Linked DNA regions of Homo sapiens: region 2 is linked to region 1. A link means that fine-mapping ties the variant in region 1 to the expression of a gene that starts in the linked region. Tissue or cell type: whole blood. Region 1 holds a variant in brackets; the other region holds the start of a gene. All regions are shown on one strand. Distances are from middle to middle.

Region 1 (8,105 bases):
TGGTGGCGCGGGCCTGTAATCCCAGCTACTTGGGAGGCTGAGGCACGAGAATCGCTTGAACCCAGGAGGCAGAGGTTGCAGTGAGCTGAGATGGCGCCATTGTACTCCAGCCTGGGTGACAGGGCGAGACTCTGTCTCAAAAACAAAAAAAAATTATCTGGGCATGTTGGTGCATGCCTGTAATCCCAGCTACAAGCCTGGGTGACAGAGCAAGACTCCATCTCAAAAAAAAAAAAAAAAAAAAAAAAAGAGAGAGAAAAAAACCTTGACAAAGTGAAGTTGGATGTAGATTTTCTTGGAGCAAGTAAATACATGCAATCTCCTGTCTCAAATGCTAGCAACATACCAGACCACTCTGCTTCATTTTGGAGAGAAGACTTCTCACACTATGGCAGCCATCCATGAGAGCTTCACAGGTTATCAGCCATATGAAGTCACTACTTTAAAGCACTTACAAAACCCTCTGAAAAAACTAGTTGAGAAAGAAGAAAAGAAGCTCACCCAGCAGGAAAGCACAGATGTAACAGTGCAGGAGCTGAGTCAATTAATTTCATTAGAGGATGAAAACCACGACAAGGAAAACACTGAAGATGGAAAAGGTATTTTATGTGTTTTAGGCAAAGGCTCTTCACACAGTGCATGCTCAGGATGAACTATTAGACATGAAACCTGAGGAAAGTGCTCGCTAGGGCCCAGTGGCAGGGACCCTGGAACCCGAAGGTACTGACAAAGATGATCCTACTGCTGTTGAAAGTGAGATCTTCAATGCTTCCTCCCTGGAAAAGGGTGAGCTCAGAAAAGAGTGAGCTGCTGTGTTTGGGGACAACCAGGTGGAGGAGGCAGCACTATGGTCCTCGGAGAGCCAGACCCCAAGCACCAGACTAAAATATGAAAGACTTACAGGTTTTGCTACAAGGCTAGTCAGACAGCAATGTCAACCTTCCCAAGGACAAGCAGTCCAAATGACAACAGCCCTGCAGTGAAAAAGCCTAAGGCTGTCTGGCACCTGCCTGCCTAGTTCAGCCTCTTTGCCAACCTCAAGTCTTATCAAATCCTGATGCTGTGCGGAAAAAAGCCATAAAGAACAAGAATTGCTCAGTGCAGGAGTCTGCATCCTTCAGTAAGCCCACCTGGGGGCTAGCAGAAGTATAAAGTGATTAGAGCCTGGGCAACATAGTGACACCTCATCTCTTCTATTTAGGCTGGGCATGGTGGCTCACACCTGTAATCCCAGCACTTTGGGAGGCCGAGGGTGGGCGGATCACTTGGGGTCAGGAGTTCGAGACCAGCCTGGCCAGCATGGTGAAACACCGTTGCTACTGAAAACACAAAAATCAGCCAGGCGTGGTGGTTCACGCCTGTAATCCAAGCTACTCTGGAGGCTGAGGGGCAAGAATCGCTTGAACCCGCCTGGAAGGCGGGGGTTGCAGTAAGCCAAGATCATGCCGCTGCACTCTAGCCTGGGTCACAGAGCAAGACTCTGTCTCAAAAAAAAAAAAAAAATTAGCTGAATGTGGTGGTGCATGCCTACAGTCCCAGCTATGGGAGGCTGATGCAGGAGGATTGCTTGAGCCCAAGAATTGGAGGCTGCAGTGAGCCAGGAGCATACCACTGCACTCCAGCCTGAGCGACAGAACAAGACTCTGTCTCTAAAAATAAAATACAGTGACCCATATGCTATTTTAAGATTTATGTGCCCTTTTAATAAAAATGAAAGGGCCAAAGTCCCTATTTACATTGGTATAATTTTTTAAAGGCTCCTTACTATGTGATTTCATTTTTATGATGTTCTCCATGGAAAAGGCAAAAAAAAAAAAACGCTGTAAAAAACAGATGGGGGTGTGAGGAGCTGCAGTGGGGTGGGGTTTGGCTGCAACTGGGCATTGCAAAGTAATTTTAGGGAGTGGTGGAACTGTTCCCTATCTTGATGGAGGGGGTGGTTCAACGTGGGTATAGCTTGTCAAAACGGTAGCTGTACTTTTAAAAGGGGGGATCTTACTGCATGGAAATTATACCTTGATAAAAATAACGATGGCCAAGGCGGGCGGATCACTTGAGGTCAGGAGTTTGAGACCAGCCTGGCCAACATGGTGAAATCCCATCTCTACTAAAAATAAAAAATTAGCTGGGCATGGTGGCAGGCACCTGTAATCCCAGCTACTCGGGAGGCTAAGGCAGAGGAATCACTTGAGCCTGGGAGGCAGAGGTTGCAGTGAGCTGAGATCGCGCCACTGCACTCCAGCCTGGGGGACAAAGCAAGACTCCTTCTCAAATGATGATGATGATGATGATGATGATGATGATGATGATGATGATGATGATAATGATGATGATGATAACAACAACGATGGAGAGAGGTTATCTCCCAGGCCAAGAGTGCACCGTTGCCATTTTACAGAGGAGGAACATTGACGAAGGCTTGGTCCCCAGGGCTTCTTCACCCGCTTCCTTCTCCCCAGTTACCTTTTTTGTTTTTGTGGGAGGCCTTCTGCATGGTCCCGGGAGGTCAGGCAGCCCGGGAGGGCCTCCCGGAGCAGAGGCTGGAGTCAGTCCCAATGCCAACAGTTTCGAACCTTGCCCGCGGGCACTGCCCTCGGGATGGCCGCCAGGGGGCGCTGCGCCGCCACTGCCCAGAAATTGGGCGGCAGTGAGGTCGCCGCAAGGCTTCCCGTGGACCCTGCAAAACGTGGCGTGGGCATTGCACACCATTGTACTGTATGGAAACTTCTGCAGAGGTTAGCACCGTGCCTGACCCACGGTGGTTTCTTCATTCCTTCTTTTCTTTTTCTTTTTTTAAGAGACGGGCAGGGGGTGGGGGTCTCACTATGTTGCTCAGGCTCAACACAACTGTTGCACTATGGGCTCAAGCGATCTGCCCGCCTCAGCCTCCCAAAGTGCTGGGATTACAGGCATGAGCCACCGCGCTTGGCTTCTTCATTCATTCTTGGTGAACCTAAGAAATAGGGAGGGGGAGAAGGCACAGAGGAGGGTGTCTCAAAGATGTGAGGTGGTCTGCAGAGGAAGATCACAGCCAGAAGATCACAGGAGATCACAGAATACCTAGAAGATCAGAGAATCCCCCGCTGCACTTCTAATAATGGTATTTTAAAAAAATTGTTACATCAGTAGCTCCAATGCTTTGGAACTGCACTTTTTTTCATGAATGTTTTGAATAAGAAAAGGCCCCAGGGTGGCCTAAAAAAAAATGAGTCACTATTAGGAGAGGCACTATTAATGCTTCCTTCTTTTTTCCAAGATAATTCTTCCTCCCACACACATTCACTCATACAACAAGTATTTACAGGGAGCTGTTCTGTCATTTACTGATACTGGGGACACAACAGTAAGCAAGACAAACACAGAAACACAGGCTCTATCCTCTTGAAACCTGTACTTAAAAAACAGATGAAGTGGACAATTTTAGGAAAATATAAATTATTAAAAATAAATTCTAGGCCAGGTGTGGTGTCTAACACCTGTAATCCTAGGTACTCAGGAGACTGAGGCAGGAGGACTGCTTGAGCCCAGGAGTTTGAGATCAGCCTGGGCAACATAGTGAGACCCTTTCTCTATAAAAAAAATTTAAAAATTAGCTGGGCATGGTGGTGCACATCTGTAGTCCTAGCTACTCAGGAGGCTGAGATGGGAGGATCACTTGAGCCCAGGATTCAAGGCTGCAGTGAGCTATGATTGAGTCACCACCTTCCAGCCTGGGTGATGGAGCAAGATCCTGTCTCAAAAAATAAAAATGAATAAATGAGTTAGTAAATTCTAGAAGAAAGAGAAAACCTAATGAGGTAGGCCCTGGTGTTATCCCCGGTCTGATGAAACTGAGAGGCTAAGCACCTTGCCCCATCCCTTCAACAAACAGTCATTAACCACCTATTAGGTGTCAGGCACTGTGCAAAGATTTCCATGGTAGATCTGGTTATGTCCAAGCTTATTCTGTTGTTTCTGTGGCTCTACACAGACAATAAGCCAGGGCAGATTCCTCTTTAGGTTCCTTTTTTTTTTTTTTTTTTTTGAGATGGGGTCTCATTCTGTCACCCAGGCTGGAGTGCAGTGACAAAATCTCAGCTCACTGCAACCTCCGCCTTCCAGGCCCAAGCGATCCTTCCACCTCAGCCACCAGAGTAGCTGGGACCACAAGCCTGTGTCACCACGCCCAGCTAATTTTTGTATTTTTAGTAGAGACAGGGTTTTGCCATGTTGGCCAGACTGGTCTCCAACTCCTGAGCTCAGGGTGATCCACCCGCCTTGGCCTCCCAAAGTGCTGGGATTACAGGCGTGAGCGCCAGGACAGATTTCTCATTAGATAAAACCTGTGTCGTAGAGACCAGTACAAAGGGCTATTCTCCACCTCAAGTCTCCTGTGGGTGACTTCTTGTGACAGGTCACCTTTCCTCTTCCAAACAGTCTGGCAGGGGTCTACATAGATACCAACTTAATTCTATCATAAAATACATCTTTTTCCTCCATCTTCCTACCAGCAGGGGAAGGGTAAGAGTTTGTGGGAATAGAGCCCATCAGCATATATGGTTCTGTGATGGAGCATATCAGTGCCTGGCCTCCCCTTAGTCTTCCCTCCACCCCAGGCTAAAAAGTGTCTTTAAAGCGGAGGTCTCTACACTCCACCAAGCCAAGTAAGCCAAGGTCACACTGATTGGTGGAACTGCAGGATACAAACTGTCCTGGGTGCTGTGCTGCCCAGATCCCCCTTCAGGGCTGAAAGACTTACACTTCCCACCCTCACTACTACTACTGGCTGGAAAGAACGCCTTGCCCAA[G/T]ATCTCACCTTCCTAGATTAACTAGCATCTGGTGACTGGTCAATGCAGGGCCATCCCAGGTTCAGAACTCCCCACGTGGTCCACTGCAGCCTTACTTTTCCCTCTGCCCTGTCCTGCTTCATTCCTTTTTTTTTTTTTTTTTTTTCAGAGAGAGTCTCACTCTGTTGCCTAGGATGGAGTGCAGTGGAGTGATCTCGGCTTACTGCAACCTCCACTGCCCAGGTTCAAGCAATTCTCGTGCCTCAGCCTCCTGAGTAGCTGGGATTACAGGCACCCACCACCATGCCCAGCTAATTTTTGTATTTTTAGTACAGACAGGGGTTTCACCATGTTGACCAGGCTGGTCTCAAACTCCTGACCTCAGGTAATCTGCCCGCCTCAGCCTCCCAAAGTGCTGGGATTACAGGCATGAGCCACCACGCCCGGACCCTGCTTTATTCCTTCTTCCAAAGAGTAGATGCTAGGATGGATCACCTAATACCCAGGTAATAATGAGGTGCCCATCCCTGGTACAGGAGGAGCATAGCTAGCCTCTGGCAGAGGGAAACTCTAAGATGGCTAATTTTTTACAGGCAGTAAATGGGATGGTATACCAGGGGGAGAAAGCAGACAAGAGTATTCAATTACCGGGAAGGAATCAGGCTGAGACTTCACATCAGGGCAGGGAGGAACATTGGGCACCCACGTGATCTATTTAGGTGTCTCTTAGTACTCCTTTGCCCTATTTGGACAGTAAATGGACAAATGCAGCAACCACTGCCTGAGAAGTGCACAGCAACTAGGTGCTCAGGCTCTCTAAGGATGGAGGTCTAGACCACCCCATCACGCAGGCCACCTAGATCATCTGAGGTGCTGGCAGAAGGGAAGAGGTTTCTAGGATGGATAGAAGAGGGGACTGAAGGGTATGTTCGTTATGCCTCTAGATGAGCTGTAGCGGCGGCAGGAGCTGTAGTTCCCACTAACCCTCCTCTATATGTTTCCCACAGGAAAAGATTCCCCAGGGTCCTGAAAGTGCTGCTCTCCAAACTTAAGTAGCAAATGAGAGGCACAGCACCATGTGGGCACTATTGCAAATGCTGCACTACACTGCCTCGGTCAGGACTGAAGGACTATTCCCCGCCTACCGGGTGGGTGGTAGGTTGACAGATCTCAGCTGTCAGCCCTCTTGAGGAATTGTCTTTGTCTAAAGAGAGCTGCCCTCCAAGCTCCATGGCAGGTCAGTGCAGGGATGAAAAGACTTGGCCCATTTACTCCAACTCAGGCCAACTCAGCAGCTATCCTAGTTTCAGAACTCCCCTGGGGGTCTGCCAAAGCCTCCCATGACTGCAGCACAGACTGACTTCTCCCTCTTCCCACCCCTGCTTCCCTTTCCCCATAGGACTTGATTCTCAAAGGCTCTCTAATAAACTTTCTGCACTAATCAATAATCGCATTTCTGAGTCAGCTCAAAGGGAACCAATCCATGAAACAAACTGAGATTTGAGCCCGGGCGCAAGCTGCTAACTCTGGATTTAGTTTCTTGTGTCTTCTCTAACCCCAGAAACCCCAGGTACATGTGTGGTGCGTCCACCATGCTCTTGGCCCACGAAACCTAACCCCTAGGGAGACAGTGTGTTTATTGTCAGGCTGAAGATACTCCTTAAAGAGAAGAGTGATCACACAGTCCCTTCCACAGCTTTGCCCGTGGTCCCATCTGGATTCAGCCTCTTCTGGCCAAGGCCTGCCATCCATCACAATAGAGCATGCCATGTTCATGGCCCTTTAACAGCTGCAGAATGGCTGTTTATGACTTCAGGCTGCACAGCATATCTCCCTCCTGGAAGCCTTCTATGTTCTTCTGGGTCCCCAAGGCTTTCTGCCATAAGGAGTCTTGTGGCTCATTTCTGAAAAGTCCCAGCTGCTCTGCTTAGGGGTGGGTGAGAGGATGGGACGCTTCTGTCACCGAGGCCAGGAGTCTTGTTAGGCCAGATGGGGGTAAAAGGCCCAGAGAGGTGACATGGCTTTCCCAAGGTCAAGTCAGGAGCAGGGCAGGAACTAGAACATAGTTCTGTATTCTCTCTGCTTCACTCCATCACCTCTCCCAAACCCTTAGGGTTTGCCTCTGCTAAAATCTAGACTGAGATACAGAGAGAAGGGGACTGATCTGTCCTGCAGACCTCAGAGACTGGGGACTCTGAAACACCAGCCAGGCACAGTGGTGTGGGCCTGTAGTCCCAGCTACTTGGGAGGCTGAGGTGGGAGGATCACTTAAGGCCAGAAGTTGAAATCCAGCGTGGACAACATAGTGAGACCCTATCTCTGACAAAAAAAAAAAAAAAAGGAAAGAAAGAAAAGAAAAGAGCTATAGGGATAAAAAGAGGGATTAATGGGAAATCTGTAAACAGTTTGGCCCCTGCCAACCCCACCTCCCATTCTGGATGGTAGGAAGGTTTGGGATAGGTGACTATTCTCTGTACTGATGTGCAGCCATTAGTATGATAAAAATGTTTTAAATTCTTTTAACTCAATACTGGTTGTTCTTGTGCTTTAATCTTAGACCCAGAACCATTTGTAAAGGGTAAAAGGAAGAACTGTATTATTTATTTATTTTATTTATTAGAGACAGGGGTCTCACTGTGTTGTCCAGGCTGGTCTTGAACTGCTGGACTCAAGTGATCCTCCCACCTCAGCTTCTGGAGTAGCTGGGATTATAGGTGCAAACCACCACGCTTGGCTACTTGTATTTATTGTAAACACAAGAACCCAATCATCATCATTCTATTCAGCTGGAGTTAGAATATGTGCAAACTGTTCAAACATTCAGCCCTAGGATTCTTCTAAGCTGGCCAGTAGAGAACATCAGTGGATATTATCTGGGAATTTAGTCCTGTATAGTTACAGTTTCTTCTATCACTGGGCAATAGAAAACCCCAACAAGAAGCCAAATATGACTCAATTAAATTTCTCCAGTACTTATTTAAAAAAAGAAGAAAAGAAAAAAGAAACTGAAGACTATTGCAGTAATGTGATATGCATTATATCTGGATCCTTGGAGTATATGAATTATCTTGTGTCAATTTCTGTGGCAGAGGAAAAATAAATTGTATAATAACAAAAAAAAAAAACCTTTCCCCCAAGAGACCAATGTTTGGACAGAAAAGTCAATATAGACCAGCAATCAAACCCTTCCTTCTCCCAGCTATGTAGTGACACTGATACTCTGTTGCACATTTCTGCAAGGCTGTTGGATTTGGTGGAATTTGAAACCTCCTGAATTTTGTGGACATGTAAGCATTCCAAAAATAGAGACAGATGTCACTCTTCTAGGTCCTTCTAGAG
Region 2 (8,105 bases), 200 kb after region 1:
CCAGGAGTTCAAGACCAGCCTGGCCTCAAGTGATCCGCCCGCCTCGGCCTCTCAAAGTGCTGGGATTACAGGCATAAGCCACCGCCTGGCCTACTGCATTTTAATTATGCATTCATCAGTCATTTGGATTGTTTTCACCTTTTGCCTATTATGAATAATATTCCCATGAACATTTTGTATAAGTTTTTGTGTGGACATATGTTTTCATTTCTGCTAGGATTTGAATTGCTGGGTTATACGGTAACTTCATGTTTAATTTTTTTTAAGAATTGCCAAACTGCTTTCCATTCCTACCAGCAGTGTATGAGGGTTCTAGTTTCTCCACATCCTTGCCAACACTTGCTATTATCTGAGATTTTGATTATAGTCATGCTAGTGGGTAGTGGGTGTGTTTTGACTTGCTTTTTTTGGTCACCCACGCTGGAGTGCAGTGGTGCAATCATAGCTCACGGCAGCCTCCAACTCCTGGGCTCAAGCTATCCTCCCACCTCAGCCTGTCGAGTAGCTGGGACTACAGGCACACATCACCGAGCCTGGCTAATTTTTCTATTTTGTTTTTTTGTAGAGATGAGGGTCTTGTTATGTTGCCTTTGCTGATCTGGAGCTCTTGGGCTCACACCATCATCCCACCTTGGCCTCCCAAAGTGCTAGGATTACAGGCATGAGCCACCATGCCTGGCCTTGCATTTTCTTAGTGGCTAATGACGTTGAGCACCTTTTCATGTCCTTATTGGCCATTTGTATATCTTCTTTGGAGAAATGTCTATTCCAATCTTTGGCCCATGTTTAAATTGGAGTATTTATCTTTTATTATTGAGTTGTAACAATTCTTTATATATTCTAGCTGCAAATCCCTTATCAGATATGATTTGCAAATATTTTTTCCCCATTCTCTGATTGTCTTTTCACTTTCTTTTTTGTTTGTGGTTTGTTTTTGTTATTGTATTTTGAGAGAAGGTCTTACTCTGTCCCTCAGGCTAGAGTGTAGTGGCGGGATCTTGGCTCACTGCAAACTCTGCCTCCCAGGTCCAAGTGTTCTTCCCACCTCAGCCTCCTGAGTAGCTGGGACCATAGATGCAAGCCACCACATCTGGCTAATTTTTGTATTTTTTTATAAAGATGAGGTTTCGCTATGTTGCCCAGGCTGGTCTCAAATTCCTGAGCTCCAGCAATCTGCCTGCCTCCCAAAGTATTGTGATCACAGGCATGAGCCACTGAGCCTGGCCTTTTTCATTTATTTATTTAATTTTTACAGACAGGGTCTCACTCTGTTGCCCAGGCTGAAGTGCACTGCATGATCATAGCTCACTGCAGTTTCAAACTGCTGGGCCCAAGGGATCCTCCTGCCTCAGCCTCCTGAGTATCTGAGACTACAGGCACACACCACCATACCTGGGTTTTTTTTTTTTTTAATGTTTTATTTTAGAGACAGGGGTCTTGCTATGTTGCCCAGGATGGTTTTGAACTCCTGGCCCCATTGATCCTCCTGCCTTGGCCTCCCAAAGCTCTGACATTACATGTGTGAGCCACCTTGCCCGGCCTTGAGTAATTTTATTTTACCGCAGTAGACATCTCCTTGAAGGCAAATGTTTCCCCCAATTCCTAGCACCATATTTGGCACACAATAGGAGCTTAATAAAATTTGCCATAAGAATTAATGCTCAGAAACTCTACTATTACATCCTATCTGCTCAACTCCCTGGAAAAGAGACATTCTCTTTTTATGGTTACTATAAAAGGCCCAGATTAGTATTTCACTGGCCTAACTTGGATCACATGCTCATCCCTGAACCAATCAATGAGGCTGAAGGGATGAAATATGCTAATTGGCCAGGTCTGGTCATGTGTCCATTTTTGGAGCCAGGGGAGTGGGGAGGGCTATTTTCCTGAACTGAAATAGGGTGAACTGGTTCCCTGAAGACTAACCAAGACGCTAATGCAAAGAAGGACACTCCTGCTGGGCAGACAAAAATGACAGAGGCTCAGAGAAGTAAAATAACTTGCCCAAGGGCCATAGAGCTTTAAGCAGTAGCGTCTTTTTTTTTTTTCCAATCTTGCTTTGGGCTTGGACAGACTAGTTCAGCATCTTTGATCTTCCCTTCCTGCCTGACGGCCCCAGGGTCAGAATTCCAGGTGCAATTTTGTCTTGCCAAAAGCTGGAGTTTACTCTCTTTGGGGTTTATAAATAAGGAAAAAAGTTCTTTGGAGAGCCTGAACTTTGAAATCAGAGAAGTCTGGATTTACTGCTGGCTCTGCCTTTTCTAGCTGCCTCACCTGGGGCATGTCATTATCTCTATAAGCCTCAGTTTTGTTCTTTTTTCTTTTTTATTTTTTTGTTTTTGTTTTTTTGCGACGGAGTCTCATTCCTTCACCCAGGCTGGAGTGTAGTGGCGCGATCTCGGCTCACTGCAACCTCTGCCTCCAGGGTTCAAGCGATTCTCGTGCCTCAGCCTCCAGAGTAGCTGGGACTACAGGCGCGCCCGGCTGCTTTTTTGTATTTTTACTAAAGACAGGGTTTTACCGTTTTGGCCAGGCTGGTCTCGAACTCCTGACCTCAGGTGATCTGCCGGCCTCGGCCTCCCAAAGTGCTGGGAAGATGGAATGAGAGAAATCCCTCAAAACATGTCATTGTTACTACTTTTCTATCTAGAATGTGTGAAATTTCTAAAATTTCACTAACAAAGTATCTGGAAGGACCTAATATTAAAGTGTTCACAGTAGCTATTAGTTTTAATTCGTTTTCTTTTTTATACCTTAGCCACTCTACCACTCATGCCACAGGTATTTATTAAGCATCTACTGTGTGCCACCCAGGCCCTGTGTCAAGAGTTAGGAATAACTAAAGGAGATACTAATTTTAAAACTACACAAATAATTGCAATCGTCATACGTGCCTGTTTTTACAAAGCAGAAATCAGGAAAAACAAAGTATTTCCGATAAAAAATATTTTAAGGTTATGGATAGAGATACATACAAACAAGCGATGGGCTTGGATCACTAATGATTTTGGAAAGGACAGGAATACAGGAACTAAGCGAGAAGCAGGCGAGAATGGCGAGGCGCGGCGGGAGAGGACGGAAGTTGGTCACTCCCTCGAATTGCCCCCTCGCTGCCGGATGCTAGGCCAGCCTTGAGCAGGAGAACCGGACACTGTGTACTCAGCAGGGGGAGCCAAGACTTAGCGCTAACCATTGCACCTGGGGCTGGGAGCCAGCGCCGGAGCCAGGAGGCCCGCTAGGCGGCTGCAGGCGCTGTGATGGCCACCTGGGGGCGGCCACGTGAGCGCCACGCCGTGCGCCCGCCAGGCCAGCCCCGCCCCTGCCCGCCCGCTTCTGCTCAACCTAGACCAGCCCCAGCTTCAGCCTCAGCTCCCCTCCTTCCTGGATCGAGCGCCCGCACTCCCGGCCCTGCAGCCACCCGAGTCCCGCTCGCTGTCGCCTGCACGCGAGTCCCCCCTGGCACGCGCTCCCACATCCCGGGATCGTCCCAACGGCCCCTGCGCCCTTCCTGGGATCACTCCGACTGCCCCGCGCGCCCTGGGATCGGTCCATCTACCCCGCGTGGCCCCAGCTGCTTGCCCGGAGCGCCAGCTAGCGCTCCCCGCTCTCCGCTCCCCGGCACTCTCGGGGGGCCCGCCCGCCCTGCACCCTGGAGCTCCGGGCCGCGAGCCTCTGCCAACTCCTCTGGACCCTCGCGGCCGTGGGCAGCGGCTGCCGCGCCTGTCTGCCCGAGGGAGGTAGGTGTGGACCGCGGCCGGCAAGGCTGTGGGGGGCTGGGAGCCCGCGCTGCAGGCCTGTGCGCCCGGGTGCAGCTGGCGTCTGGAGCGTGCTGGGTCTGGGCTTGGGAATGGGGCCGGAGAAGGCATGGAAGGAGAGTGTGGGGGCGCTTCTCCTCTGGTTGTTAAACTCTCTGGGGCTAAGTGCTTGCTTTGGAGAAATGGGGAAGTTGTGCGGATTAAAGGCGATGTGGATATGGAAAGCAATTGGCAAGCAATGGGCGGTGATCTGGCTGCAAGTGACAGAGAGTTTGGGGGCCTCCCCCCTCGGGGCCCCTAGAGTGTGGGCGCATCGCTGCCTTCCTGTCCCCTGCAGGGCTCAGAGCCGCATCCCCCACCTTTCCCCTGAACTAGAGGCCTGCGTCAGCCCGAATTCCCGGAACCTCCAGGACTGTATAGACGCGCCCTTGCTGCATTGTTGGCTGCGGGAGTTTGTTGGCAGGCGCTGCTGACATGTGTGCCAAGGGGCTGGGCATTAATAAGCCGGTGGCCGCGCGGGGGTGGGGGCCTCCCGGGTAAGCCCCGGCCTAGATCCTTTTGCGCGCGCCTGGGGGATTTCGGGGAACCAGCCCAGCTGCGCCCTGAGTGTGACAGATGGGCCGCATGGGGAAGTGAGATCTGCCCAGGGGGACGGTCCCAGGGAGCCCGACCTCTGGGACCTCGGTGGTGGGTGCTTCTTCAGCCAGGAAAGCAGGAAACACTAGGGCTGGAGTCCTGGGTTGGAATTCTAGCTCATTTATGCTCTCTGGCCCTCGGTTTTCTCATCGGTAAAATGGGTACAGTATTAGTATCTACCACTTAGTATCCTTGGAAAGAGTAGATGAGTATGTATATGTCAGGTGCTTGGAACAGTGCCTGGCACACAGTGTCATAGTCTATGGCCCCGGGAGACATCTGATGGCCAAGAGCCCTGTGGTTGAGGGCCCTGGACAGGCTGTGAAGTCACAGCGAATTGAGTCACGTAGTCTATCCTAATGTTTTTAGCGAGGAGGAAACCGAGGGTCAGAGTGATCCCCAGGCCCACAGAAGCTCCCTAAGAGGAAGCCAGTCACATAAACAGATTCTAAAAAGCGAGATGGAGTAAATGGGAATACAGAGCAAGCAGGTGGGAGCTGAGAATGCCCACTGTGTGTGTAAAGGGGAGAGGGTTATGGGGGAAGGCTTCCTGTAGCAAGTGCTGTTTAAGCTGAGCTGGGGAAGAGGCAGGTGGAAGGAGGTAGAGTTCAGAGATGGCGTATGCAGGTGTCTTCCTTCTGTGTGGCCTCCACAGCACCCGATGTTCATTCCTTTGTTCAGCTATTAATTCAACAACTACAGTAAAACCTCTCAAGGACATGAATTTCAGTGTAACATGGCTGGGATTGGCGTCCGCCCTCCTCTCAGCCCCCATTCTCAAAGAAGGGGGTGGGGTCCGAAGTTCTTATCCTCTGCAGGGAATGGGGAGGCCAGAAGACAGAACTGAAGTGGTCACAGTTTACACATAATCATCGGTGTACATTCCAAGAGCTACCGGTGTTTTGGGCCAGGGGCGTGGTGGCTCAGGCCTTTAATCTCAGTACTTTGGGAGACTGAGGAAGGTGGATCACTTGAGGTCAGGAGTTTGAGACCAGCCTGGCCAACATAGGGAGCCCCCATCTCTACTAAAAATACAAAAATTAGCTGGGCATGTTGGCATGAGCCTGTAATCCCAGCTACTCGGGAGGCTGAGGCAGGAGAATCGAGAATCGTTTGAACCCAGGAGGTATAGTTTGCAGGGAGCTGAGATTGCACCACTGCACTCTAGACTGGGCAACAAAGCGAGACTCTGTCTCAAAAAATAAAAAAGATCCACCAATTTGTTTTTCTTGTGCTTTTTGTAACTGTACAGTACTTTTTGGCTGATTACGGATATATCACTGGCTGGGTGTGGTAGCTCACACCTGTAATCCCAGCCACTTTGGGGGTGCTGAGGCGGGAGGATTGCTTGACCCCAGGAGTTCAAGACCAGCCTGGCTGACGGGGTGAAACCCGGTCTCTATTTAAAAAAAAAAAAATCTCTGATTTGCTTTTAAAACATTTTACTGTATTATGTGGCAGAGAAAGCTATGGGTCACCAGTACCCATGTTCTCGTCCTCCTGGGGTGCTCCCTGGATGAATTTTCCTAGGCTTCCTTACCATTCGGTAGGGCCACACGGCTGAGTTTTGGCTGATGAAATGTGAGTGTGTCCATTTCAAGCCTCGACCCTAAAAACCTCTCACTCTTTCCTTATTTGTTGGACAAGTCAAGGCGACTTTGAAGGCCTAGAGGAGGGCAGAGCCACAAGCCAGAGGGAGTGTTTGTTGTTTTTGAGATGGAGTCTTGCTCTGTTGCCCAGGCTGGAGTGCAGTAGTGTGATCTCAGCTCACTGCAACCTCTGCCTCCCAGATTCAAGTGATTTTCCTGCCTCAGCCTCTTGAGTATGAGCTGGGACTACAGGCACATGCCACCGTGCCCAGCTAATTTTTGTATTTTTAGTAGAGATGGGATTTCACTGTGTTGGCCAGGCTGGTCTCAAACTCCTGACCTCAAGTGATCCACCCGCCTCCCAAAGTGCTGGGATTACAGGCATGAGCCACCATGCCCACCCGGGAAGGATGTCTTTAGGGTTGTTATCTTGCTGTGGGGAGAGTCCCCAAAGCAGTCTTGTCCAGTTTTTGGCAGGGTTGTCGTCTGGTTGCCGGGACTCTGGGAGCTGTGTGAAGAAAGCCAAGGGTGAACAGCAGAAGCTTGGACTTGTTCAAGCTCGTTCTCCGGGATTCACTATTTCTGGTCCAGTTCTTACACCTGAAGCAGAACAACTGAATGATCAGGGCTATAGACAAAGTAATAGCGGCAGGTTGAACTAATTTAAAAGAATCAGTGTTTTTTGTTGAGGGAGATTGGTTCTGCTGACCTGAAAGCTGCAGGTTATTACCCTGATGAACTGAGAAGGCTCCTAGAAGGTGGTTAGAGCGATGACCTTGTCTCCACCTGGGATGAAAGCGGCTTGGGCCTTAAAGTGTTGCTGGATCAAATTCTTGCAGCCAAGGCTGATGAGCACAAGCAAGGAGGCTTCTTTTTTGTTGTTGTTTTGAGACAGGGTCTTGCTCTGTCACCCAGGCTGCGGTGCAGTGGCACAGTCACAGCTCACTGCAGCCTGGAACTCCTCGGCTCAAGTGATCCTCCTGCCTCAGCCTCCCAAGTAGCTGGGACTACAGACATGAGCTACCACCATGGCTGGCTAACTTTTAATTTTAGTGTAGAGATGGGGTCTCACTCTGTTGCCCAGGCTGGGCTTGAACTCTGGGCTCAAGCGATTCTTCTGTCTGGGCCTCCCAAAGTGTTAGGATCACAGGCATGAGCCGTGCCCAACCATATAAGAAGGCTTCAGACAAAGGAAGGAGTGAGTCACTAACACGCTGATGATAAAGCAGAAAATAACAGTGCTCCCCACAACCCCCAAAGTCCCAGGGCTGTGGGACTCCTAGAGAAGCGTCTCAAATGGCTCCAGAGTCAGAAGGTGGATGGCGTTCTGTTCTCCAGCTGTGAAGCTTTCGAGCTCTAGCAAGGACTAGCAAGCCAGAGGAAGCACCCGGAAGTAGGTGGCTAAACTGCGGAAAATTGCCCTAGGCCAGCGTTTCTCTAACTTCAGTGCACATCAGCATCCCCAGCAGGACTTGCTTACACTTTGATTGCTGGACCCATCCCCAGAGTTTAATTTAGTAGGTCTGTAGTGAGGCTTGAGAATTTGCATTACCAGCAAGTTGCCAGGTGAGGCTGCTGCAGTGGCTGCTGCGGCAGCTGGTCCCATACTTTTAGAAGCGCTGGTTAAGGAAGTGATGACTGCATTGAAAGCTCTGGATTCAGCCCGCACCAGCTTCAAACCCAACTCTAGTCATGTGATTTGGGATAAGTCACATAACCTCTCTGTTCCTTAGTTTTCTCATCTGTAGAATGAAGCTAAGAGCGACTAACTCCTGGGGTTCAGGGGAGGCTTCATGAAGGAGGTGATATCTAAGCTGAGACCTGAGGGATGAGCAGTCAAGTTGGCCAGGGGATGAGTAGGGAGGACAGGCTGGGGTGTGTACCAGACAGAGGGCATAGCATGTTCAGAGCCCGAGGAGGAAGGAGTGCCTGCCTTCTAGGGAGCTGGGAGGAGTTATGTAGCAAGTGCTTTGTAAGTGATACTGAAATGCTACCAATCTGTTCTGGGCAGGATCACAGTGGAGAGGAAGCCAACCAGGGTATGGAAAATGGGCTGCTGGACGGGCTCAGAAATGGTACAAGTTATTTGTGCTCTTTCATTGGCCAGAATGCAGTCACATGACCT

What was found. PIP is the estimated chance that this variant, and not a neighbour inherited with it, causes the effect.
Region 2: it holds the start of EEF2K, and the variant in region 1 is fine-mapped to the expression of EEF2K in whole blood (INTERVAL, PIP above 0.99).

The regions. Positions count from the first base shown.
Region 1 is chr16:21,998,554-22,006,658 of GRCh38, forward strand. It overlaps PDZD9 (PDZ domain containing 9), which reads right to left and starts at 2,563. Exons shown (of 4, transcript NM_001363519.1): 1 at 2,464-2,563. The coding sequence starts at 2,494. It also overlaps the pseudogene LOC100420536. RefSeq lists an enhancer at 2,709-2,758. The variant G/T (reference allele first, on the strand shown) is at 4,788.
Region 2 is chr16:22,202,943-22,211,047 of GRCh38, forward strand. EEF2K (eukaryotic elongation factor 2 kinase) reads left to right here and starts at 3,336. Exons shown (of 18, transcript NM_013302.5): 1 at 3,336-3,737. RefSeq lists silencers at 3,107-3,406, 3,567-3,836 and an enhancer at 6,998-7,498.